4 linked regions of the Homo sapiens genome follow. Changing the gene in region 2 together with the main gene of any one other region gives a genetic interaction. Each region holds a gene or a part of one and is shown on either strand. Other genes may lie near its edges. The genes, in order: CMTR2, PTAR1, SGMS2 and JTB.

Region 1 (5,544 bases), on a different chromosome or scaffold from region 2:
AGCTTGAACAAAGGTCATGTCCAGGGATGAATCTCTAAGGATGGATTTGTTTGAGGTCATGTAGGTGTTGTCACAGTCATTGGTAGGGAAGAACTTTGGGGAAGAGTTAGATGGGTTACTATGATAATCAGAGCTGTCATTCACTGATGATTATGCTTTGTTATATGTTTTTTATATGCTAGTATGTTTTATCTTCTTCTTAAAAAATGATAGGCTTTTTTTTTTAATGAGAAGAAACCAAATCCAAGAGATGGAATTTGCCCAAGGGTGCTTATTAAGCCATAATTAGCAGAGCTGGAATTTGAACCCAGGTCTTGGATATCAAAGCCTTTTTCATTATTCCAGATTACTTGGTTAAATAACAGAGTATGCTGACTTTAGCCTTCCCATTTTATGGAGTTTGTCATGAGTGTGATCGTATTTGCTGCTCATGAGATTTCGCTCACTAATAAATTTGATTCATTTAATTATGTGTTTTCTCTTCCTAGATTTTAATTTGATTTGAAAATGAGTAAGTGCAGAAAGACACCAGTTCAGCAGCTAGCAAGTCCCGCGTCATTCAGCCCAGATATTCTTGCTGACATTTTTGAACTCTTTGCCAAGAACTTTTCTTATGGCAAGCCACTTAATAATGAGTGGCAGTTACCAGATCCCAGTGAGATTTTCACCTGTGACCACACTGAACTTAATGCATTTCTTGATTTGAAGAACTCCCTAAATGAAGTAAAAAACCTACTGAGTGATAAGAAACTGGATGAGTGGCATGAGCACACTGCTTTCACTAATAAAGCGGGGAAAATCATTTCTCATGTTAGAAAATCTGTGAATGCTGAACTTTGTACTCAAGCATGGTGTAAGTTCCATGAGATTTTGTGCAGCTTTCCACTTATTCCACAGGAAGCTTTTCAGAATGGAAAACTGAATTCTCTACACCTTTGTGAAGCTCCAGGAGCTTTTATAGCTAGTCTCAACCACTACTTAAAATCCCATCGGTTTCCTTGTCATTGGAGTTGGGTAGCGAATACTCTGAATCCATACCATGAAGCAAATGACGACCTCATGATGATTATGGATGACCGGCTTATTGCAAATACCTTGCACTGGTGGTACTTTGGTCCAGATAACACTGGTGATATCATGACCCTGAAATTCTTGACTGGACTTCAGAATTTCATAAGCAGCATGGCTACTGTTCACTTGGTCACTGCAGATGGGAGTTTTGATTGCCAAGGAAACCCAGGTGAACAAGAAGCTTTAGTTTCTTCTTTGCATTACTGTGAAGTTGTCACTGCTCTGACCACTCTTGGAAACGGTGGCTCTTTTGTTCTAAAGATGTTTACTATGTTTGAACATTGTTCCATAAACTTGATGTACCTGCTAAACTGTTGTTTTGACCAAGTCCATGTTTTCAAACCTGCTACTAGCAAGGCAGGAAACTCCGAAGTCTATGTGGTTTGCCTCCACTATAAGGGGAGAGAGGCCATCCATCCTCTGTTATCTAAGATGACCTTGAATTTTGGGACTGAAATGAAAAGGAAAGCCCTTTTTCCCCATCATGTGATTCCTGATTCTTTTCTTAAGAGACATGAAGAATGTTGTGTGTTCTTTCATAAATATCAGCTAGAGACTATTTCTGAAAACATTCGTCTATTTGAGTGCATGGGAAAGGCGGAACAAGAAAAGCTGAATAATTTAAGGGATTGTGCTATACAATATTTTATGCAAAAATTTCAACTGAAACATCTTTCCAGAAATAATTGGCTAGTAAAAAAATCTAGTATTGGTTGTAGTACAAATACAAAATGGTTTGGGCAGAGGAACAAATATTTTAAAACTTATAATGAAAGGAAGATGCTAGAAGCCCTTTCATGGAAAGATAAAGTAGCCAAAGGATACTTTAATAGTTGGGCTGAAGAACATGGTGTATATCATCCTGGGCAGAGTTCTATTTTAGAAGGAACAGCTTCCAATCTTGAGTGTCACTTATGGCATATTTTGGAGGGAAAGAAACTGCCAAAGGTAAAATGTTCTCCTTTTTGCAATGGTGAAATTTTAAAAACTCTTAATGAAGCAATTGAAAAGTCATTAGGAGGAGCTTTTAATTTGGATTCCAAGTTTAGGCCAAAACAGCAGTATTCTTGTTCTTGTCATGTTTTTTCTGAAGAACTGATATTTTCCGAGTTGTGTAGCCTTACTGAGTGCCTTCAGGATGAGCAGGTTGTAGTACCCAGCAATCAAATAAAGTGCCTGCTGGTGGGCTTTTCGACTCTCCGTAATATCAAAATGCATATACCGTTGGAAGTTCGACTCCTAGAATCAGCTGAACTCACAACTTTTAGCTGTTCATTGCTTCATGATGGAGATCCAACTTACCAGCGTTTATTTTTGGACTGCCTTCTACATTCATTGCGGGAGCTTCATACAGGAGATGTTATGATTTTGCCTGTACTTTCTTGCTTCACAAGATTTATGGCTGGTTTGATCTTTGTACTCCACAGTTGTTTTAGATTCATCACTTTTGTTTGTCCCACATCCTCTGATCCCCTGAGGACCTGCGCAGTCCTGCTATGTGTTGGTTATCAGGACCTTCCAAATCCAGTTTTCCGATATTTGCAGAGTGTGAATGAATTGTTGAGCACTTTGCTCAACTCTGACTCACCCCAGCAGGTTTTACAGTTTGTGCCAATGGAGGTACTCCTTAAGGGGGCCCTGCTTGATTTTTTGTGGGATTTGAATGCTGCCATTGCTAAAAGGCATTTGCATTTCATTATTCAAAGAGAGAGAGAAGAAATTATCAACAGCCTTCAGTTACAAAACTGAACATATGCTTTCTGAGATTCAACTTTATGATTTCTTATAATTTGCCCAGTATTTGCATCCTGTTGCTCTATTAATTTAAAAACCTTTTATTTTGGGGAAAGGCCAACATTTGCATCATTCAAAGTCTCATTAATTCTGGAAAACCATCCATTCTGATCTCTAGGGTATATACACCCACAGGCATAGAGCTCTTCCACGTGGTGGAATCTATGCAATGATAGATATTCACACTCTAAATATGAGGTGTGTGTATGTGTATGGGTGGCCACAGCCATGCTTACCTATGCCATTTAGTTGGTCTTACTTAATCTGCTTAAGATTTGCATCTGTGTACCTTTGTTCAGATTAGTTTTTTTTTTCCAGCCGATTTCCTCTTAGTGGCTAATGCTGTTAGTGAATTTTCCAACTAATTTCCTCTCATTGGTTAATGTTGTTAATGAATTGAGAGAGGTAATTGAGGAAAGGAAATGAGTAAATCACTGTTCAGCAACACTGATTTCCGTTAACACATCAGTTATGAATTTCAGGGAATTCATCTCGCCAGATTCTTGATAACATGCCATTCATTGCCCTTAGGTGATTGACCCTATTTTCTTACATGGCTCAAATAAAACTAGTATGCTGTTGTATGAATCTTTTACTGACCACACCATCCAACTATAAAAATATAACGGGACAGCTTTAAACCAAAGATCATGTTTAGAACAATGAAAAATTATTTGTTGTATCTAATACACGCCTGTATTGTGAAAAGCTTCATTTAGCAATGATGTAATAATTTTTAACTTCCAGGAAATAATCTGTGAATGGAAAGATTTTTTAAGATTTTGAGATAGTGTTTAGTCTCATGTTGGGAACACATGAATGTGATGAACATAGTGAATACTAAAGAAAACGCTTCAGACTTTCAGAATGATGGTTCAGAATTTAAAATTTTTAATCTTTTCTAATTTCTTTTTTTCAGTGTGAAAATAGCACTTTACCAAAAGATTAGCCATGAAATGGTTATTTTGCCAGTTACATTTGATTTCTTTTGTATCTGCAATGTAATGAGTTATTTTATTTCTTCTGTATTTGCAGTGTAATGAGTTTTTGTGGCAAAGTGTATTAAGCAATTTTTCATTATCTTGAAGTTCCACAAAGTGGAGAATATTTATATTCTCACATGCATTTTAGGCACTTTTGATATGTGAAAATAGATGTATTTTCTGATGCATTTGGTTAATAAATATTAATCTGAACATTTTCATGTTCTTTGCTATTTTGAATTCCATTATAGATTCATGAATAAAGTCATTACTAGAGAGATTTTGTGTTCATCTTTTTTAAATGGAATTATGGGAGAAGTTAAAAATATAAGTTGGAAACAGACATTTTTAAAGGGAGTTTTGAATGATAGTTAATGTTCTTTCATTTTCTCTGATTTGCATTCATTAAAATTTAGTCCTTAATATTGTAATACTTATGGAAGGCCTACTTCAGGAAAGAAATTGAATACTTAAGGGGGATTGGAAGAGGAGTGTGTGGAGGCCTGGAAGTAGATTTTTGAAAGAAATCTGATTTCCTACTGGTGACTCTATGGAAGCAATTCCAGTTGTATGACGATGGAAGTCTGACAGAAGGTTGATTACCAGGAGGAAAAAAAAAAACACTCTTGGAAAACCATTTTGCACTTAATAGTCTTTATGCCTTGCTAAGTGGGATTCAATATACTAATAATGCAGCTTATTTTTTACTTATTTTAACTATTTGATAAGAATGAAGTTGAAGGCATGGGTCCAGATTCTAGCATTATTACTGTCTTTAAGCCCTTCAAATAAGTATTGAATGCTTAGTGTTTTGTTGACACTAATCTGTACTGGAATATATAACACTGAAGTATTCTCAAATGTATTTTGCTTTTTAACGTGGGTTTTGGAATCAATTGCTCATCTGATTCATTGGATTCAAATTGCTTTAGAGGTTAGACATGACTTGAGGAAGGTTCAGATTGAACTGGATATATTAATAGATGACAGGTACTAATGATTTATATGAGTTTCTCTTTAAGAGAAAGGAGAGGAAAAATGCTATTCAAAAGATGAATGGAAAAGTAGAAGAAGACAGGAAGAGGTGAGAGTATGCATGTTTTACCAAGGTAGACTGTTCTTAAAAACTTTTTTCCACAGGTTTTGAGATTTTTAATTTGTAATATCTATTAAAAAACAAACATCAAATTGTTTCCTTTGTAATCTGTTTAATTTGAACAAAACATACACTTAGTGTAAGTATTATACTCTTAAAATGATGACAAATTATTATATCGAGATGGGACAGATATGCAAGACTTGGCTGCAAATTTGTTTACTACATAGTTGACACTGAAAAGAGAGACTCAATTATTTTATAATAGGCTTCCCACACCTTTAAAAAAAAAGCTGGATAAAACATTTCGGACTGATCTTAGGAGCAGAACTCAATATAAAGCAAAAATTTCAATATGGAACAAAATATGAATATTTCAAATTCAATATTGAAATGGAAAATGAATTTCCATTTCAATGGTAAGCATTTTTTAGGGTTGGCCTAATGGGCCAAGTAGCAAGTAAACTCAAAGCTTGATACTACGTATGGTAACTCATAGTATGTAGGTATGTTTTAGGACATGTAATTAAAAGAATAATGCTCAATAGATGTATATGGGTTATTATTTTGAGCCTCTAATGCATTTTTTAGTTTATATAA
Region 2 (7,033 bases):
TGAACAAAATGTTACTGATTTCAGAAGAAAAATAATCCAAGACTGCAAAAGCAATTGGCTGTTGCAAGAAAAAAATATATATTTTATATATATATTATATATATATAATGACAAATTGGTTTCCTGAACATTGAAAGGAAAATAGTTGTTTTCTTTATCAAATAAAACTTTATAAATAGTATGTCACTGTTGGAAAGAAAATGTATTGTGGTATTTAGGAATTAAGTCCGTCTAAGTAGATATGGTATAAGAGCTGGATTCTGGTTTTCTCTGGCTTAAACTTCTCTAAAATAAATGAATAATCAGCCCTACACAGGAAGGACATTTTAAGATAAATAATAACAAATGATCTGATTTTATTATAAAATTATAGATACATTGAGAATTCAGTGAGAGTGTAATATCAGCACTTATCAAAAACTTACCTGAGAAATTAAATGTAAATTGTATTTACCTGAGAAACAGGTATAGAAAGCTCTTGCATGACATTCTTTATATAGTTGGCCCTCTGTATCTGTAGGTTCTGCATCCATGGATTCAACCAACCGCAGATAGAAAATATTTGGGGAAAAAATTGCTTTCTGTAGCGAACATGTTCAGACTTTGTTTTCCTATCATTAGTCCCTGAATAATGTAACAACTATTTATATAGCATTTACATTGTATTAGGTATTATAAGTAATCTAGAGATGATATGAAGTATATGGGAGGATGTGTGTAGGTTATATGGCAACACATTTTATATCAAGGACTTGAGCATTCGCAGATTTTGGTATCCTTGGGAGGTCCTGAACCAAGCCCCCACAAGATACCAAGGGACAACTGATTGCATTGAAGCTTTGGTTGGGCTTGAACAGTTTTAAAAACAACCAAAACATTACATTGCTATTACTTCTGCTGCTTATATTAATATTTTAAAAAGGAATGGCCTCGTATATCAAGGGTCATGTAAGTATTTTACCTTGTTAATAGCTCTTTTGGAAACTTATCCAAAGTAAGAATACAAAAGAAAGAAGTTATAAGCACAAAGCTTCCCCTGCCCAGATTTGTTTTAAAATAACAAAAAGTTTGACGCAACCTAAATGTCTAACAAGAAGGGAAAAGCATAGCTTCTAAATGAAAACTAATTTGATCATTTAAAATGTTCATTACAAAGATTATATAGAATCATGGGGAAATTCTTAAGATATAATGAGAGCAGGATGTAAAATTATATGTTAAAATGTATGTGTGATAGGGAAAAGTAGAAGGGAAAATTCAAAAATAAAAAATAGTAATTTGGTTAGAATAGTGATTCCATGAATGATTTTTTTTTCCCTTACATCTCAACCATATTGTGTTTGTTGTATGTGTGGTTTTGTAATGAAATAGACCATGTCAAGTCCTATTTAGGAAACTAGACCAATTTTGGCTGGTATTGGATTGGCCCTATAGGTACGATATCAGGTCTCACAACTTTTGGAAATGAGATAGGCCAGAAAACCCCATTTACCCTCACGCAAATAGTTAAGATTTAAAAATCGTTAAAATCTGTTGATTTAAGAGCTTCTCTTTCTGCTTATTAGTTTGTTATATTGGGATTATGAGAATACATTCTTGATTACTGCATGTCACATTTATGAGTGTTTTATATCCCAGAGTGGCTTGGGCTTTTTTTCTTTCTTTTTTTGTTTTAAAATTCTTAGACATTCGCTTCACAATGAGATTATATTAAAAGCCATGTAGAACCTTTGGATATAAGGATAAAGTAATGTTTAATTTTTTTTTTTTTTTTTTTTTTTTTTTACAGGAAAGAGCTGATCCTCTCTGGCACTTTAAATCCAATTAAGGATTTACATCTGGGAAAACTCGCCTTAACCAAGTTTCCAAAGAGTCCAGAAACATGGATTCACAGGTGTGGTTAATTTACAACATAGTACTCTTACTTAGGATTCAGACTGGCTGGAGAAAGAAACATGACATGTGAGAGGCAAGGTTACTTATTGGTTCCAGAGCATGAATTCTGAAGTCAGGTTACCTACATTTAAATCTAGGAGCTATATAACTTGCTACCTAAGTGTTCATGGGAAATTACTTAACTCACCAAGCCTCAGTTTTCTCATTTGTAAAATGAGAATAATAATTACACCTGTCTCATATAGTTAACAGTCAAGTTTACGTGAGTTAATGCATGTAACACTCCCACAGTGCCTGGCACATATTAAATACTCAATAAATGTTAGCTATTATTAACTCTTTGAAGCAGTTGTGGGCATTGCATTTATAGATACTCAACTGTAATGAGCAATATGGATTTTAAAAGCATTTGGTTGTTTTCCTGGTAAAGATGTTGGTGGTGATGGTTGTGGTTATTAAAATTAACTTACAGAGAAAGCTGAGGGCAGCTGAAGCGAATGCTGTGTAGGCTGAGCTAAAGTTGCTAAAATCCATACATACAAAGAACATTTTTAGGTTAAAAGCATGGGACAGATAGCCAGAATGCACTTTAGGACTCTCAAAATCCTGGCCACCTGGAACCATCTTCCTCTTGGACCCTGTGTAACTACTCTTATTTGACCAAAATGGGATGGTGTGGGCTTGCTAGTCAGGACCAATGAAGAAGTCACTCTGAAATTCTCAGTTTATTAAGCCACTCTAATTTTTCTTAAATCGTGGGCATTTTTAGGATCTTATGTCCGTTCCAGGTGTCTTAGTGGTAATCGTGCCTTTAGTTAACATTGCAGGTCAGCTTCTTCCAAACCACATAGTCAGTTATATTTTCTTCATCACCAGAAATTGAGATAGTATACCACAGAAGGGTATATGACTGTGTGTATGGGGGTTTGGAAAGGGATGGTGGCAGGGGAAAGGAACTGTTAAATATGCATCCATCAGTTTGGCTTGTCTAATTTTTTTTATCAAGCAATATTTTGTTGTTAAATAAGAAATTCCATTATTTTAAAATGACAAAGTGAGTTTTCTTACTTAATTTCCTGTACCTTTGGGTTTGAAATCTTTAGTCTAAAAAATGCTTTTATATAAGTAAATTACTGGTACAAAGTAAACACATTAAGTAGCTCGAAACACTATTTAGTGTTTTTTATGTAAATACATGTTAATGCAAATCTTAAACAGACAAAGGGAGAATTTGTGGATAAGGATATTTTGACACCTTCTTAATGGTTTAATGAATTATATTTGTTACCTTCCAGATTTTATGCTATAATACAGAATTTTGCTGAATGAAAGCTATCAGAATGCAGCTTCTTGTTTGCAAACAAATGCACATAGGGTGAGGCATGCATATATACTTAAAGATGTGAATCATGACTCCTTATAATATTTATCAGCCATTAATTTATGACCTCTCACCACGACCACACACACACACACCAATTGCCTTTACATTTCCTGGCCAAGTGGAGTTTTGGGATTGTCATTTTAGAAGTAATGACATTCTCTGTATTACAGATTTTAAAGTTTTTTTTTTTTCCTGTTTATCCATTTTCCACCCTTCATCCATACTGCTAAATTAGTATCATCATAAACAACAAAACAACCCCTCCCCATCTCCAAAATACTAGACTTATAAACAGGTATTATTTTGCATTGTCTCTGAATGGAAATTAAATTAGGAACAATGAAAACTGGTTATTTTTCTCTCTGGTTTATGTTCTTTCTGTGTTCTCTTTCCCACATGCTGCCTTAACAGGCGATGGGTGCTACAACAGCTAATTCAGGAAACCTCCTTGCCTTCCTTTGTGACCAAAGGAAACTTGGGAACAATTCCCACAGAAAGGGCACAGCGACTCATACAAGAAGAGATGGAGGTCTGTGGTGAAGCAGCAGGGAGATACCCAAGCAACTATAATGCTTGGTCCCATCGCATCTGGGTTTTACAGCACTTGGCCAAGCTAGATGTCAAGGTAGGAATATTACTGTCTCCTGGGCAGACTGCCTGTCTGCCCTTAAAATCTTCTGGTAGTAGTTCATTCTCAGAAGAGCTTTGAAGGAGTAGAGAAACTGATGGTCTGGCAACTTGAGAGAATCGCAACAGCTGCTACCTCTGGAGGAACCCTGTAATTAAATAAAAAGCTTGCATTCCCCACTAGTGCTGTTTTTGGCAGTCTTAAGGCTAGTGCATTGGTAAAGCAAGGCAGGTTTAACCAACTGAGGAAGATTGAGCATAACTCACTTTATCCTGAAACAGGAAGGGATTATTAAGCCTTATAGAACTGGAATTGCTATTTCTTGGTAGTGTTTGGTTATGTGACAATATACTAAGTCAGCTGGCTGTCTTTTCACACTCTCGTCCTCTGAAAAGGGGGAGAGGAGGGCAGGGATAGACAATCTCACCCAGGTGTTTTTAAAATTGGCTGAGCCTATAAATTACCTGGGGATTCCTAAGTTCCACTCCAAGCCTACTAAAGCAGAATGAGGGTGGATCTAGAGATCAGTATTTTCCACTGACTCAGGGTTATTTGAATGCAGAGCCAGTTTGGAAACTCTCACAGCCTAATCCTTTCAGTTTAGAAATGAGGAGATGGAGATTTCCAGAGAATTTTAATGGCTTAGACTTAGCTACAGTTGTACCACTTATTATTCATCAGAATGAGAGCCACATGTCCCTTTTGCTCCTTATATACTACGGTGTCTCAGTTTTTTCTTTTCTGATGGCGTCACAGTGCCATAAGAATCTAGGGTGCTCATCTAAAAAGCTTCTCAGGCTTGAGACAGTTAAAAGAGGTCAAGTTGAAGATTGAAGTGCCCCAGGTGATGCTTTCAGATAAGTGGGGAAGTGTTATGTAATTTTAACTTACCACCCTCTTCTTCCTACATCCCTCTTCCCATGCTCCCATTTCTCTCTTTGTTTCCTGGCCAGGGCAAATGGGAGACTTTTTACTTCCAGAGGATTTTAAGCCAATAATTCTGGAAGAGAAGCCTTCCCCATTCAGTTTACATGGCTTTGAGTTTCAGGAGGGGTGGCCGCCTAATGGAATAGAAAGAACCAAGGCTCAGAATCACATCAACCTAGGTTCAGATTTTGGCCCCACTACCTATATGTGGAAAGCAAGGTTTTATTGTTTTCATTTATAAAATAGGGACTCTACTGTCTGCCTCAGTGGATTATTGTGAGAGTTAATTGAGTTAATGGATGTAAATTACTGGGCATCTAATAGAGAGAGATTCACTCGATTTTAGTTCCTTTCTCTGTTCTCCAGAGATAGAAAATTGGCTACCAGTTTGCTTGATCAACTCCGTGCAATTTATTGATGAAAAAGTATAAAACCCTATCATACCCACCGACTGTCCTGTATACGCAGTAAAACAAAGTGTTTGCTCTCAACAAATTGAAAATCTAGTTGAGAAAGTAGACCAACAATTACAAAGCATCAGAATACAATGGGAGCACAGAAAAATCGTTCTTCATCTAGGATGCGCTCGTTGGAAATAGCTGCCGGGGGAAGGAAGATACATTGAGTTGGGAGGCATGATTACAAGTTGTTTGGTGGGTTGTCAGGGATATGGAGTGCTTGGTGGTCATCTCAGATCCATGACTTGATAGTGTGTGGGAAGAGGAAAGAGATATGGGGAGGATTGGGGATAAAAAGGAAGGCGGAGTCCAGGTTGACTGAGAGATCTTTGGAAATTTTTCTGCCATGATGTGGACCTTTACAAGTGGCATTTCCATAAAATCAGGAACAAGGGGCCAAAGTGAAATTTTTGGTTACTTGAGACCATCTGGTGGTAAAGATAACTCATTAATGGTGAGTTATAACTCATTAATGGTGAGCTCAGCTGCCAGGGTCCACTCCTGGGTTCAGATGTCATCATCCTTCCTTGACCCGCCCTTGGAGGAAGACTTACCATTCTTCCATTCACCACTTGCCACTGCAACATCTCTTGCTCTTGTTGTCAGTGAGGAGTCCTAAATTTGCAAAATCCCCTTTCTGTTGTTATAAGCCATTGGGCCCACCTAGAACATTTACTACTATGCTTTGTCTGTTACAGGAGGTAATCACAAAAATACCAGTAGTCTAAATCAGCTTAAAAATATATATGAAATGAGCCAGCATTTTTTAACTTAGGAAATTGAAAATGACTTTTTAAAGTGCTGGCATCGAGTATTAGTAAGAGTATGAAAATGAGCATTATTCAAATTGTTATAAGCTTACTGAAGGGCAACATGGCAGCACTTATCACACTTTTAAAAATAGGGTGTTATTTTTAAGAGTTCTGCTTCCAGGAATTCATCATAAAGAAATAATGGAAGATGAAGTATGGTAGAATGATTAGAAGCTTCACTCAGTGGTCATGCAGACCTGCTTTGCATTCTGGCTTTACCACCAATTTGCTGTGTAGCCTTGAGGAAGTTGCTTAGCCTCTTCAACCTTCAGTTTTCTCATCCGGAAAAGGAGGGTGACAATAATTCCCATCTCACTGAGTGATGCAAATTGAAAGGGAGGATTCATATAAAGTGGCTATCAAAGTGCCTTAATTAAGTGCTCAATAAACACTGGCTATTAAATATAGAAGTTTGATATATAAAAGTAGCATTTATAGTAGTGAAAAACTAGAAAAGCTGTAGCCCTTCAATAATGAGGGAATTGTTAGATTACAATCCATCACATTGGAATATTTTGTTATGACTAAAATGTATATTTTGGAAGATGATTTAAAGGAAAATATTCACAATAGGTTATATTAGGGTAGGCCTAATATTATTATTTATTTATTTATTTTTGAGACAGGGTTTTGCTCTGTCGCCCAGGCTGGAGTGCAGTGGCACAATCTCAGCTCACTGCAACCTCCGCTTCCCAGGTTCAAGCGATTCTCCTGCCTCAGCCTCCCAAGTAGCTGGGATTACAGGCACCCACTACCACGCCCAGCTAATTTTTATATTTTTAGTAGAGACGGGGTTTCGCCATGTTGGTCAGGCTGGTCTTGAACTCCTGACCTCAAGCAATCCACCTGCCTCTGCCTCCCAAAGTGCTGGGATTACAGGCATGAGCCACCACACCCAGCAGCCTAATATAATTTTTAATGTATTTAT
Region 3 (7,033 bases), on a different chromosome or scaffold from region 2:
CATTTGAGTTTAGGATCTTCTCTATAATCTGAGGATCATAAAAAAATTACAGAAGAAGATGGGGATGAGGGTGGAGGTGGGGGAAGAGGTGCATTTCAGAGTGAAGGCACTGTAGGTTTAAAGTAATAAAAACACCCCCAGGAAACTTAGATTCAGTTTTCTAAAATAACTGAAAACCAACTGATATTAACTGTATTAGTCTGTTTTCACACTGTTGATAAAGACATAACCAAGACTGGGTAATTTATAAAGAAAAAGTGGTTTAGTGGACTCACAGTTCCACGTGGCTGAGGAGGCCTCACAATCATGGTGGAAGGCAAAAGGCATGTTTTACATGGCAGCAGACGAGAAAATGAGAACGAAGCAAAAGGGGTTTCCCCTTATAAAACCATCAGCTCTTGTGAGACTTATTTCACTACCACAAGAACAGTATGGGGGAAACCACCCCCATGATTCAGTTATTTCCCACCAGGTCCCTCCCACAGCACATGAGAATTATGGGAGCTACAATTCAAGATGAGATTTGGGTGGGGACACTGCCAAACCTCATAAACAATAATAGCAAATAGACATAATACTCTGTCCCAGGCACTATTCTAGGGCCTTGATGTAAATTAACTCATTTGATCCTTACAACCACCCTCTGAGGAATGCAGTATTTTTTCCCATTTTTCAGATGAGTAAACTTAAGCTTAGAGAAAGTGACTTGGCCACAGTGCAGAGCCATCATTTTGAGAAGCAGGTATTCATGTTGAAGGAGGCTGAATCCAGGGGTTTTGCTTTTAATTTCTTGGCTCTGTTTAGAACTTTGGAAATTCAAGCTGGCTAACTCTATCGTATTGCCAAGGAATAGTCTACTTATCTATAAGCAGGGACATTGCTCATTATTGTACATTCTTTCATCTCAGAGCAACAGCAAGGCAACTTGTGATTGATTTTATACTTTAATGAAGGCCTCTCAGTATGTAGAGACATTTTTTCCCAAGACATGATTTTGACTAGAGGTTTCTAAAATTGTGTACATTTATATATAGTGTGCAAGGAATACCATTCTGCTTTCTCCAATATTTGATTAGAAATAGAGGGACAAATCTGTAATACTTAACACAAACTCAGTTTATAGTCAGTTCTGTATGTAAGCAGAGCATTCCATGTTTGTGTCTGTTTTTTTCTATGCAATTAGGAAAAACATTTATCTTCTAAATTATACCATATGTTCTTGTTCTGAGTAAGCAGTGGTTCCAGTGGTTTCTTTGAAAAGTCTGCTTCTAGAATTAGATGTATCATTTATATATATATTTTTTTACTTTCCCGCCTTTTGATCAGTTTGGGCTCTTTTCCTTGTTTGCTCTGTTGTCATGAGTAGATTTAAATTTAGTTGTGAGAGCACATGAAGATGTGGCACCAGGACCATTTCGGGGTTAGCAAGGGAGGGCTTCATACAGTCGTGCAAATATTATAATTGGGGGGTAGGTTCATGATAAAATTAGCCTGGAGAAATCAGACTAGCTGTTAGTGCCAATCATCTGGCTAGTAGAGAACAGTTTTTTGGTTTTTTGTTTTTTCACCTGGCCACCCTACCAAGTCTCTATTATTTAATGAGCCCTAGGGCTAGAATTCCACACAGACAGTGATGTTAGCTATTATTTGTGTCATCATCTAGCTCATTGTTATCCCTATGGGATGAATGAGAAGAGGATTACCATTTTGCCATTCTATTTCAAAACAGCTTCTATTCAATCTTTTCTTTGGGTCAGCCAGTGTTCTCAGTTAATGAGTGGTGGGCCCAATGTGGTAGCATAACAGGAAATACATTTTTATGAGAAAGCACTGCTGGGGTTTCCAGCCGTTCCTAAAACCTCACTTGCAATTCCGTGAGTAGTAAAAAGAAGATTCAGGCCACCTCTGGACCTACTTCAACTTTGCTTCTTGTGAATAAACAAATGCAAAATAGTTCTAGTTTGCCTAAACATTTTGAACTTCTAAGGTAAATCCCAGATGACCTGTAAGTTGGGAAGCAGGGTTGCTAAGAGACCTTGGGGGTGGGAGGCGGGTAGGGTCTGAGGTGCTGGGAAACGCATATTTAGTGAGACCTCCAGATTTCTCAATGTTCATTCAATTTTTAATGTCCTGAGTCTAACACAACAGTTATGGGGACTGGATCTGGCTCCTAAGACTGCAAGAGTAAGGCCTCTCCCATTAAAATTCTGAGATTCCATGAGTTTTCTTCCAGAACTTAGTGGCAGAATGAAGTAACTGACAAGTAATAAGGAATATATCCAAAATTAGAAAATCAGACTTTCAAATGCCATACAGGTTTATTTTCTTACTGTGTGCCATTTGGGACCAACAGAGCAACGGCTAGTTTTACCAAGAGATTATATTTGAATGATACCTGATTTGGTATTTCATTTAAAGTTCTGGAAATGGGCTGGGCGCAGTGGCCCATGCCTATAATCCCAGCACTTTGGGAGGCTGAGGCAGGCAGGTCACCTGAGGTCAGGAGTTCAAGACCAGCCTGGCCAACATGGTGAAACCCCATCTCTACTAATAATACAAAATTAGCCAGGCATAATGGCGCACCCCTGTAATCCCAGCTACTCGGGAGGCTAAAGGAGGAGAATCGCTTGAACCCAGGGGACAGAGGTTGCAGTGAGCCAAGATCGTGCCATTGAACTCCAGCATGGGCGACAAGAGCGAAACTCCCTCTCAAAAAATAAATAAATAAATATAAAGTTCTGGAAATGGATCCTTTTGCTATTCAATCATCTTTCTACATGTGAATGTAAATATCACTATAAATGTAAACATAGTTAAATATGAAATCAATTTCAGTTTATTGGATTAACTTTTATTGTGAGCTAATACAGCTTTAAAATAAAACAGATCACCAAGCTGCTAGAGATGAACTCTGGTTTCAGTTATATTTGTCATTAACACTTGTGTGAGAAGGGGAGGACCATCATGTTTAAACCAGTGAGTGCCACAGTTGTCTCTTACAGCTAGTAAGTAGAATGAACTTTTAAGTGGCTTTACCAGGAAGGCTGAGTCCATAAGTGAATGGTTAGGAACCCTAACCTTTACAGAGGGAATGTTTTATAGTTTCTATTGGCAATAACAGTGTAAAATTGCTGAGAATCAAAATATTGCTAGCCACAATGCCATTCCTTCTGACCCCCTTACCCTACACATACCCCTGGAGAAATAATATAAATTTAAAACCTGAAATTACTCCTGCTTTCCCATTTCCCCCCTTATTTTCATAGACCACCACCTTTTCTTTTGATCCCTACTATCTTTCTTTCCAGTGGGAAAGTGGCTCCTTTATGTGAGCCAGTATGCAGCAATTCCAGCAAACCTAATAAGAAACAATTCTGTTCTTTCTTACTAAACAGCTTATTCACGTGGGTAAGGCCTAGAATGTCTAGTGTTACCAGCTTCCCCAGTGAATGACTATTACGCCCGCTGCCAGGGAGCCCCTCTGCCTCCCTCCTACCTGAGCAGATCCTGGGCAGTTCATAGTGACTCAGTTTAGGTTATCAGTTTTATCCTTCTGGTGACTTCCTGATCCTGGGTTATTCTACTTAAGGTCGTTAGGACAGACTGTAATCATTACATTCATCTCTGGGAATCTTATTAACTCTGTAATTTTTCTACTGTCCAGATTCGCCTCGTCACTTCTGGTGGTATCATTTAATCTGCTGGCTGCTGAGTGCTGCCGGGATCATCTGCATTCTTGTAGCACACGAACACTACACTATCGATGTGATCATTGCTTATTATATCACAACACGACTGTTTTGGTGGTACCATTCAATGGCCAATGAAAAGGTGAGAGCAGTGAAGATGCTTGGATAATTTCTTTTCTTTGAATGCAGTGGACCCTTTTCATGTCGTGGGGTTTTAGATAGCCTAATGGGGATAACCGATGTTGCCACATTCACTTAAACATATATCCATTACTGCTTTTTAAAATAAAGCAAAGAACTTCACAAATATAAATGCCATTTATGGATAAAAATGCCATAAAGTTATGGAGCACAGTGCATTGCTAATTCAGGTAACTTAAACTAGAATGAAAAAATATATGTACTAAATTAAAATTTAGGAACCTTCTCTGTAAAAGCATTGTAGTGCAGCTGGGTAAGACATAATCCTGCCTTCAACTTAAATTAATTTTAAGGAGAAGGTAACAGCTATTTTTTTTAATTTTTTTTTTTTTTGAGACAGAGTCTTGTTCTATTGCCCAAGCTGGAGTACAGTGGTGCAATCTTGGCTTACTGCAACCTCCACCTTCCAAGTTCAAGCGATTCTTGTGCCTCAGCCTCCCAAATAGCTGGGATTACAGGTGCACGACACCACGCCTGGCTAATTTTTATTTTGTATTTTTAGTAGAGACAGGGTTTCACCATGTTGGCCAGGCTGGCCTTGAACTCCTGACCTCAGGTGATCCTCCCACCTCGGCCTCCCAAAGTGCCAGGATTATAGGCGTGAACCACCGTGCCCAGCCGATAGCAGCTATTGTTTAAAATCACACAAAATAAATAGCTTATGAATGACTGGATTTGGTATATCCTCTGGTGATAATGGTGCTCTCTGGCTTCCCTTCTGATTCTTCCTCATTTGCTACTGCTGCTTCCTTGTTTCCAGATGCCTTTTCTTTCTTCTCCCATTGAAACTTAAAGAGCTAGCTCAAATGCCACCTCTTCCAGGAAGCTGTCTCTAACTCTTGCTCTCTTCCTCTGGTCCGAAGGCAGAATTATTCCTCCCAGTCTCTCTTTTCTCCTAGTCTTGGTATGTGTCCTTGGTGTAATAGAGTTGGTCTGTGTACCATGACTTACTTATCTTTGAATAGACTTGCCATATTGTCAATTTGGAGAATTTGTGAGCAATTGAAATATTACATTTCCAAAGGATCTACGTCCAACTCTTGGTGTCCACTAATAAATGCTCTTTCTTTGGATTACTTTATTTCTCTTTGTAGCTCTGTTTCCTATTTTGTAGTCTCCCATTTCCATCTTCCTTCTTACACTTCCATCTAGTTGACTACTGACACCACTGAACCAAAATTTTCATCTTTCCTCTTAAATGTGTTCAACTTCTGAGCTCTTCTTTCACTCTTTGACTTGCTTGGCCCCTAGATTTGATCACTCACACATCCTGAAAATTATTCCTCCTGAATAATTCTGAAATCCATTCCCAGAGTCTCCATTCTTACTGGAATTGCAGGCAGAAGAAATTGCATGAGCCACAAAGGAAAGAAAGACACCTAGGTGTGTTAGGGGAGCGGAGTCATGGTAGAGTTAGGGAAAGGACATGAAAATCATTACTGCCATGTGATTCTGAATTCTGTTTTCCCTAGGTTACAGTGAATGACAATTTAAGAAAATAATTGGGATGCAAATTGAGAAAGATATGTCTCATTTAAATTTTTTTCTACCATTTACAGAACTTGAAGGTCTCTTCACAGACTAATTTCTTATCTCGAGCATGGTGGTTCCCCATCTTTTATTTTTTTGAGAAAAATGTACAAGGCTCAATTCCTTGCTGCTTCTCCTGGCCGCTGTCTTGGCCTCCTGGCTGCTTCAAATCATCATGCAAAAAGTATTCACGGGTTCAGAAGATTGGTGAAGACAATGAGAAATCGACCTGAGGAGCAAAACAAAGGCATCAGCTCTTACACCAAAAGAGTTAACGCTGTAACCAAAGGTATAGTTTTGTTTTTTATTTTAGGAGAACTGACTGGTAAATGAAGAAATGGACCAAATTTTGTGTAAACGATTAGAAAGATGAACAAAGTATTGCCCTTTGACTGGTTTTCTTCTTCATCCTGAGAAAGATACATTCTCTTGCAGCTCTTCATTCATTGGTGACAAGCCCCCACCCCGGGACTTTACTAATGAGCTTGTTAAAGAGGTGCCAAAGAACATATTCCTCCTTTCTTTATTCTTTCTCCACCAAAACCCTCTACTTCAGAATTTTTTCAGGATATTTTTCAGCCCAAGGTCAGAAGAATGTGTTAATATTTTAAATAAAATATCTGGACATCTACAGCCACTGTGTAAATAGAACTGCCTAATGTTGAGAGTGGTTTTTAGCATTAGGTTTAGCAAGGGGGAGATCCGTGGGTTGTGCGTCAGCTTTGGGTGAATTTTGTTTCTACCCTGTCACGGGGAAAGTTCGGGTTGAGTCCAGGAGTGCACACTGCTGCTGCCACCCAATGCGCTACATATCACTTTTTTTTGTTTTGTTTTGTTTTGTTTTTAAAAGATCATTTTATCTTAAAAAGGAAAGCTGATCCAAGTAAACACGAAAGTATTTGACACACCCCACAGATTTTACATGTGTGTAAATGTTTCACTTTAAAATCTCTATGACAGATACACAGGAAACATGAGATGGTTTCTGCTAATGAGTGGCCCTTGAGTACACACTTAGATGCTGTCTGCCCTGTAAATTTGGATCTGGTGCCCCAGGGCAGTCAACTCTTCTAGCACAGGCTGAAAACACGTGTGTGTCAACTGAGGTTCACACCACTTGGGGAATGAGCCTGTTTTCTTTCCAGGTCAGGCCCTGGTGTGAGATCAATTTTAGGGCTCCTAATTGGAGCACAGAAATGTATTTGGTCAAATTTCATTGAAGGTGATTTCTTCCTTTTTCTGTTGTACTTTATGGAAAAACCAAGATGGAACCTGAAAGTTAATGTATCCTTGCTTTTAGCAAGAGACTCAGTTTCTTATAACTAGTCCTAAGGACATATGCCGCAATTGAGTAATTTTACTTTTACCCTATGAAAATAACATGGTGCTGCACTATAATATACTCTCGGAATCAGTGTGTTAGTTACAGCTATACAGTGAAGGGGGATAACTGTTTCTAAATTTCTTTAAGGTGATGCCAAAAAATGGATTAAAAAATCTGATCAGATTTAATGTTACCAGATTTAGTGCATTATTTAATGCTATTGGATCTTTTGGATAATTCTTGGCTTAATTTCTTAGCTACTTGAAGGTTAATTTGCAAGACTTTTAAA
Region 4 (7,027 bases), on a different chromosome or scaffold from region 2:
TGTAGCTATATGGACTCGATTTGCTTCCGGACCTTTTCCAGAGCCTTTCTGTCCAATTGTCGCTGACGAATGATGACAAGACAAGCGAAGATCAGGGCCACACACACGACAGCCCCTTCGAACTTCCAAAATAAGCGTTGTTCCATCAAAGCTGAGCGGCAGCTGAGGGCAGGAAGGAATAGTTATTCCCAAGGAAGGCCAGACAGCTTCTCCCTCTAATTTCCCTTCTACTTCAGCCTAGCCAGGATACACTCAAGAGGAAATCAGAGCCAGGCTTCTATTGTGTGTATAGTACATAAATCCCTCTCAAATAGATCATTTAATTTATTCTCTGGATAAGCAGAGCTAGTATTAACCAATTTTACTGATGAGAAAATATGGCCAATAACATAGTGCTGAGGAGTAGAGCTGGGACTTGGGTTCAAGTAATTTGGCTCCAAATCCCGTCTTCTTTCTTATTATTTTTGAGATGGTGTCTCGCTCTGTCACCCAGACTGGAGTGCAGTGGCGTGACCTTGGCTCACTGCAACCTCCACCTCCCGGGTTTAAGCAGTTTTCTGCTTCAGCCTCCCAAGTAGCTGGGATTACAGGTGCCCGCCATCATGCCCAGCTAATTTTTGTATCTTTAAGAGAGATGAGGTTTCACCATCTTGGCCAGGCTGGTCTTGAACTCCTAACCTCGTGATCCACCCGCCTCGGCCTCCCAAAGTGCTGGGATTACAGGCGTGAGCCACCCCTCCCAGCCTCTTTTTTTTTTTTTTTTTTTTGACACACAGTCTCGCTCCATTGCCCAGGCTGGAGTGCAGTGGCATGATCTTGGCTCACTCTAACCTCTGCCTCCTGGGTTCAAGTGATTCTCCCTGCCTCAGCCTCCCAAGTAGCTGGGATTATGGGCACCCACCACACCAGCTAATTTTTGTATTTTTAGTAGAGATGGGGTTTCACCACGTTGGCCAGGCTGATCTCGAACTCCTGACCTCAGGTGATCTGTTAGCCTCAGCCTCCCTAAGTACTGGGATTATAGGTGTGAGCCCGGCCCCCTCTTCTTTCAGATATTCCATGCTACCCCCAGACCAGGGGAAAAGGTGGGACCATCCATCTAAAGTCATAGGAGCAAAGGAGGTGATCTCAGAGAAGAGAAACAGCACTCACCTTTTGAACTCATTTCTCTTAGATGAGCTGCATGTGATTTTCTCTACATATCCTGTGGGACCACACTCAGGGGTAGTTTTCTGCCAGGAGAAAAGGAGCAAAGTACATGTTAGGAAGGGGCAACAGGATAAACAAAAAGGCTGCCATTCAGAAGGTGCAGGTGCCCAACTGCTATGGTTTGGAGTGGTAGGCAACAGAGAGCTAATGAAAGAGTTCTGATGCGGATGGTGGAGGTGGTGGTTGCATGATTACGAATGTATGTTAGAACACTTCAGGGGCAACAGTCTAGGAGTGGCAAAGATACATTCCATTCCAGAGCCTACTATACTAAAAGTGAATAAAACATAGTTATTTGAGGCCGGGTGTGGCGGCTCACGCCTATAATCCCAGCACTTTGGGAGGCCGAGGCGGGCAGATCACGAGGTAAGGAGTTAGAGACTAGCCTGGCCAACACAGTGAAACCCGAGTCTACTAAAAATACAAAAATTAGCCAGGCATGGTGCAACGCGCCTTTAGTCACAGCTACTCAGGAGGCTGAGGCAGGAGAATCGCTTGAACCCGGGAGGCGGAGGTTGTGGTGAGCCGAGATCTCGCCACTGCACTCCAGCCTGGGCAACAGAGTGAGACTCCGTCTCAAAAACAAACAAAAAAACCATAGTTATCAGTTGAATACTGCCATTAGCTTGGAAAGAAAGGGGCACATTTTCAGGGGAAAGACAAGTACAGATTTGGACATACACTGAGACTGCAAGAAGAAAGAAAAAAAGATGATGCAAAGGCAGCTTAATAAGACTTGGATGTTAAGATGTTGCTTAAGTGTTTGCTTAGATGTTTAAAAAAAAAAAGGGTAGAGAAATAGATACTCACAGCCCGGAAATTAGAGCATGGAGAGCACTCTTCTGCTACCACAAACTCTTCCACCAGCCAGCATGGCAAATTTGAGGTGCTTGCTGAAAGGAAAGATAAATGCCAGCCCCAGGCCATTCAGAAAACATTTCTCCCAGGCTCTGCCCATCCAACTTCCCGGCACAGCGCTTGCCCTCATTCCATGTGGTGCCGGCCTTTTCCACCTGTGCTCTTGGTATATGGGGAAGATACTAAAACCAAAAACAAACGACGGGACGTGTCGGGTTCCCAGACAATCACCCACCTGACAGCTTCTCTTCCTGCACGGGAGCCTCTGCTTGGCTGTAGCGGAGTTGGGGGAAGGGACAAAAGTCAAAACCCAGAAAATAGGGCACCCCCTCCTGCGCTGTCCATGGATAAGATCTCCCCCAGCCCCGAGGCCGGGAACGATCCTGTCCTCCAGTGACCTCCTTTTCCCTCCCCTTACCTCCTCCTTACCAGAGCTTTAAGGTGAAAGCACAGAGCAACCAGCAGAGGTGGCGGCCCTGGGGGAGGCCAGGCCTCCCGGCACCCGCAAGCATGGAGCGCCAAGTGTCGCACCTGTCGGAACAGAGGGACCTACTCCACAGGCCTCGTGCCTCCGTCGGAGCGCAGAGGCGGCACTTACTCTGCAGCCCTCCCAGAGGTTCCAGGTCAGGGCAGGGAAGGCCGGAGTTGCCTATTGGAGCAGAGGATCTATCAGGACGTCCCCGTTGCCACAGCGAGAAAAATCGATATGTTTTTGCGGGCTAGGGAGGCGAGCGCCTTCTGCGGGGTCCGCAGGGCGCTGGAGGAAGGGCCGGCGGGGGCTCGCGGCCCTAGCGCCCGCTCACCTCCGCTCCCGCCCCCGACGCAGCCATCTAGCCCCGTGGAGGATCCTCGGGCGCGGGACCGAGCTCGGGGCCCGGTGTTCCCGGGGGCGTTCGGTCGTCGCCCGCTGGGGCTTATAGTCTTCCGCGTCGGTGGCGCCTCGCCTGCTGCTCACTGGGAATTAGCTCGGCGCCCCGTTGCATTGTGGTCTTGGTAGTCTTTGCGAGAACGGCAAATGGCGGTTGCAGAGGCTCGTCCGAATTCTCGGCTCGCTGCTCCCTGGCTGGCGCGTGTTTGTTCATTCTGGGCTAGGTGAGCAGGGACAATACGTCGCCCTCTCAGGACTTTGCTCTCTCCTTAAAACCCGAGGATTCACCGTCAAGCTTCTGGTTTCTCTGACATCCTTCCCCAGCCGCCCCTTCATCGCCACCGATGATCCAGTGGAGAAGCTGTGTTGGAGGTCAAGGGATGGAGGCGAAACTGCGCGTTCTCGTCCCTGCAGAAACCGGAATATCCGAGACACATGACGAACATGAAACTTTCTCCTTGTCTCTTGGCTCCCACTCCGCTACACAGATGAACGGTGTTACCTTCCCTCATGTTACTTTGCTAAGCCTACTCCTCAGAGCTGGTCCTTTGCATAACCTCTTCAAATGCTCTCAACTCTCCCTTGCTCCTACATAATGGAGTAATCATAAGTGCAATGAGAAAAGCATGAGATTTGAAGTTCCATAAGTATTGAGTCTAGGTTCTGGTGGTTATTAACTCCATGATCTTAGGAAAGTATCTGTCAGTGTTCTGTGTAAAACGGAAATGCTAATGTGTATTTACCAGGACTTTTTCTTGCGAGAGGCAGATGAAATGTATCTCCGTTTCATGAGTAAGTTCAGAGAATATAAGTGACTTGTCCAAGGTCAGCAAGCTAATGAGTGGGAAAGCTGAGGCTTGAGCCTAGACTGTCAACACCCAGGCCAAAGATTCATTGCCTGCTTTTCATCTTATGGAGTTAAACCTTGATACACACTCAGATCTGCAGTGACTTGACCAGCACTGTGGGTTCATGCTTTACTGTCTGATAACGAATTTTCATTTAATTTTATTTTTTTTCTTAGACAGGGTCTAGCTCTGTCACCTAAACCTGATGAGGGCTGAGCCTTCATTTCGCCGTTTTTTGTTTGTTTGTTTTTGTTTTTGAACGAGATGGACTCTGGCTATGTTGCCAGACTGGAGTGCAGTGGCAAGTCACAGGAGCCATCATAGCGCATTACAGCCTGGAACTTCTCGTCTTCAGGGATCCTCCCAAGTAGCTGGGATTTCAGGCATGTGCCACCATACCTGGCTCTAATTTTGAATTTGTTTCTTTAAATTATTATTTGTGTTTGCTGAAATTGTGTGTGTATTATTTTTGTGTATGTGTGTGAGTAGTTATATGTTACATAAAGTAGGTTGTGGGGTTTTTTCCAGTAATGTTTAGCTATAATTGAAGTTTGGGCCGAAATCTGCTAGTATTTGTTACTCCTCACCAAATCCTACCTTATCTCACAACAAACTGTAAGATCTTGTGATATTTCACTTCCAATAACCTTACCAGGCATCAGAGTGGGGTCTCTACTCTGAAATTAAATATCTGCCATAAGGTATGTTGAAGACGTTAGTCTCTTTCCCAGGAGGCACAAAGTGCAAGTCTTTTCCTCATCGCTTGAGCAAATTAAACCTACCGGACAGTTTACTACAGAACTCAAACACAGCTGGGCGCAGTGGCTCACGCCTGTAATCCCAGCAATTTGGGAGGCCGAGGTGGGCGGATCACCTGAGGTCGGGAGTTCAAGACCAGCCTGACCAACATGGAGAAACCCCGTCTCCACTAAAAATACAGAATTAGCTGGGCATGGTGCCATATGCCTGTAATCCCAGGTACTCGTGAGGCTGAGGCAGGAGAATCACTTGAACCCGGGAGGTAGAGGTTGCGGTGAGCCGAGATCACACCATTGTACTCCAGCCTGGGCAACAAGAGCAAGAATTCATCTCAAAAGAAAAAAAAAAGAACTTAAGCATAAGCCACAAATAAGGTTTATCATTACCTCATCAATGCTTGGATACTTACATTTATCAAGTTATTACATTTTGCTGTGTAAAAAATATTATGTATGGTGAAAGGGGGATATATATATATTATGTATTAAAATATGTATTATATATTATATATTAAACATAATATAATTATATATAATTATATATTAAACATAATATATTATATATTAAATATATAATTATAATATATATTTAATATATATGTATAATATATAATTATATATTATATATAATATGTTATATGTTTATAAACATATACATGTTATATATATTATATATTTCCTATATATTTAATATATAATATATATAATTATACATTGTAATATATAATATAATATAATATATATATACTTAAGGATGCTGTGCATCAAGCCTGAATTTTTTTTTTTTTTTTGAGATGGAGTTTCGCTCTGTCTCCAGGCTGGAGTGTAATGGTGCGAACTCTGCTCACAGTAACCTCTGCCTCCTAGGTTCAAGCGATTCTCCTCCCTCAGCCTCCCAAGTAGCTGGTATTACAGGCACCCACCACCATGCCCAGCTAATTTTTTTTGTATTTTTAGTAGAGATGGGGTTTCGCCATGTTGGCCAGGCTGGTCTCAAACTCCCAACCTGAAGTGATCCACCCACCTCGGCCTCCCAAAGTGCTGGGACTACAGGCATGAAACAACGTGCTCGGCCCAAGCCTGAATTTTCTTTTGCATTTCCAGTAGTTTTGCCATCTTTGTTATTCAGCAAAGAGATGTTTTTGTTTTCGTTTTTGTTTTTTTGAGACAGAGTCTGGCTGTGTCACCCAGGCTGGAGTGCAGTGGTGTGATCTCAACTCACTGCAACCTCTGCCTCCCAGGTTCAAGTGAGTCTCCTGCCTCAGCCTCCCAAGTAGCTGGGACTACAGGCGCCCTCCACCACTCCTGTCTAATTTTTTTTTTTTTTTGTATTTTTAGTAGAGACGGGGTTTCACTATGCTGGCCAGGCTGGTCTTGAACTCCTGTTGTGATCCACCACGCCCAGCCAAAGAGCTGTTTTTGTTAAAGTTTGCTTGTCCCAGGCTGGGCGCAGTGGCTCACGCCTGTAACCCCAGCACTTTGGGAGACTGAGGCAGACTGATCACTCGAGCCCAGGCGTTCAAGACCAGCCTGGCCAACATGACAAAACCCTGTCTCCACTAAAAACACAAAAGTTAGCCAGGTGTGGTGGCACGTGCCTGTAATCCCAGCTACTCGGGAGGCTGAGGCAGGAGAATCGCTTGAACCCGGGAGGCAGAGGTTGCAGTGAGCTGGGATCGTGCCACTGCACTCCAGTCTGGGCGACAGAGCCACACTCGGTCTTAAAAAAGAAAAAAAGTCCTTGTCCCTCTGCTTGTAAGTACCACCAAAGGGCTATATTAACTGACTATTGGCCAGGCATGGTGGCTCACGCCTGTAATCCCAGCTACTTGAGAGGCTGAGGCAGGAGGCAGAGGTTGCAGTGAGCTGAGATCGCACTATTGCACTCCAGCCTCGGAGACAGAGCAAGACTCTGTCCCTAAAAATAAATGAATAAATAAATAAAATAACTGACCATTGTGCCTGGCACTTAGTAGATGCTCAATATACATATATGAATAAATGAACTTCTCATTTTCCTCACTAATAAAAGCAGATATTAATGCCTATCAAATAACTAAATGGATTGCTGGCAGAATCAAAGAAGCTTGCACAAATCACTGGATAAATCACTAGGTGCAGTTATTTCCCTGAGGCTAGGACTGTTAGAGTTCTTCTCGCTGGGAATTTCCTGTGCTCAGGACAAGGCTCTGCCCACAAGGGCATCCGGACCCCATGGCGGAAAGAGGATATCCAGACCTTCAGATCACTCTACCTCCTGCTCTTTGCTATTTTCCTTACCAACAGAACAGCTAGGGAAGAGACAGCAGTAGGATTAGTCCTGGTTCCACAGAAACCGAGCCTGATTTGGGTAAATCAATCACTTTGAAGACACAATAATTGGATTTGAGTGGAGAACAATTCTGACAATAATCCAAGTTACCCAAAACAGGAACATTTGTGCAAATGGTGGCCTTTAATACCAAGAAAGACCATGACAAGTGACA

The links.
Region 1: changes in PTAR1 (region 2) and CMTR2 are lethal when combined (synthetic lethality), as found in Homo sapiens cells (one study listed by BioGRID).
Region 3: changes in PTAR1 (region 2) and SGMS2 are lethal when combined (synthetic lethality), as found in Homo sapiens cells (one study listed by BioGRID).
Region 4: changes in PTAR1 (region 2) and JTB are lethal when combined (synthetic lethality), as found in Homo sapiens cells (one study listed by BioGRID).

Annotation. Positions count from the first base shown.
Region 1 is NC_000016.10:71,280,884-71,286,427, reverse strand, and holds the end of CMTR2 (cap-specific mRNA (nucleoside-2'-O-)-methyltransferase 2), read left to right. Parts: intron 1-488; 5' UTR 489-507; coding exon 508-2,820; 3' UTR 2,821-5,036; downstream 5,037-5,544.
Region 2 is NC_000009.12:69,729,011-69,736,043, reverse strand, and holds part of PTAR1 (protein prenyltransferase alpha subunit repeat-containing protein 1), read left to right. Parts: intron 1-1,789; coding exon 1,790-1,894; intron 1,895-3,691; coding exon 3,692-3,905; intron 3,906-7,033.
Region 3 is NC_000004.12:107,904,901-107,911,933, forward strand, and holds part of SGMS2 (phosphatidylcholine:ceramide cholinephosphotransferase 2), read left to right. Parts: exon of another isoform or gene 1-3,664; coding exon 3,665-3,831; exon of another isoform or gene 3,832-5,449; coding exon 5,450-5,653; 3' UTR 5,654-7,033. UniProt on the Homo sapiens protein: Sphingomyelin synthase that primarily contributes to sphingomyelin synthesis and homeostasis at the plasma membrane.
Region 4 is NC_000001.11:153,974,674-153,981,700, forward strand, and holds the start of JTB (protein JTB precursor), read right to left. Parts: upstream 3,002-7,027; 5' UTR 2,580-3,001; coding exon 2,497-2,579; intron 2,341-2,496; coding exon 2,303-2,340; intron 2,103-2,302; coding exon 2,020-2,102; intron 1,233-2,019; coding exon 1,153-1,232; intron 163-1,152; coding exon 6-162; 3' UTR 1-5. UniProt on the Homo sapiens protein: Required for normal cytokinesis during mitosis. Plays a role in the regulation of cell proliferation. May be a component of the chromosomal passenger complex (CPC), a complex that acts as a key regulator of mitosis.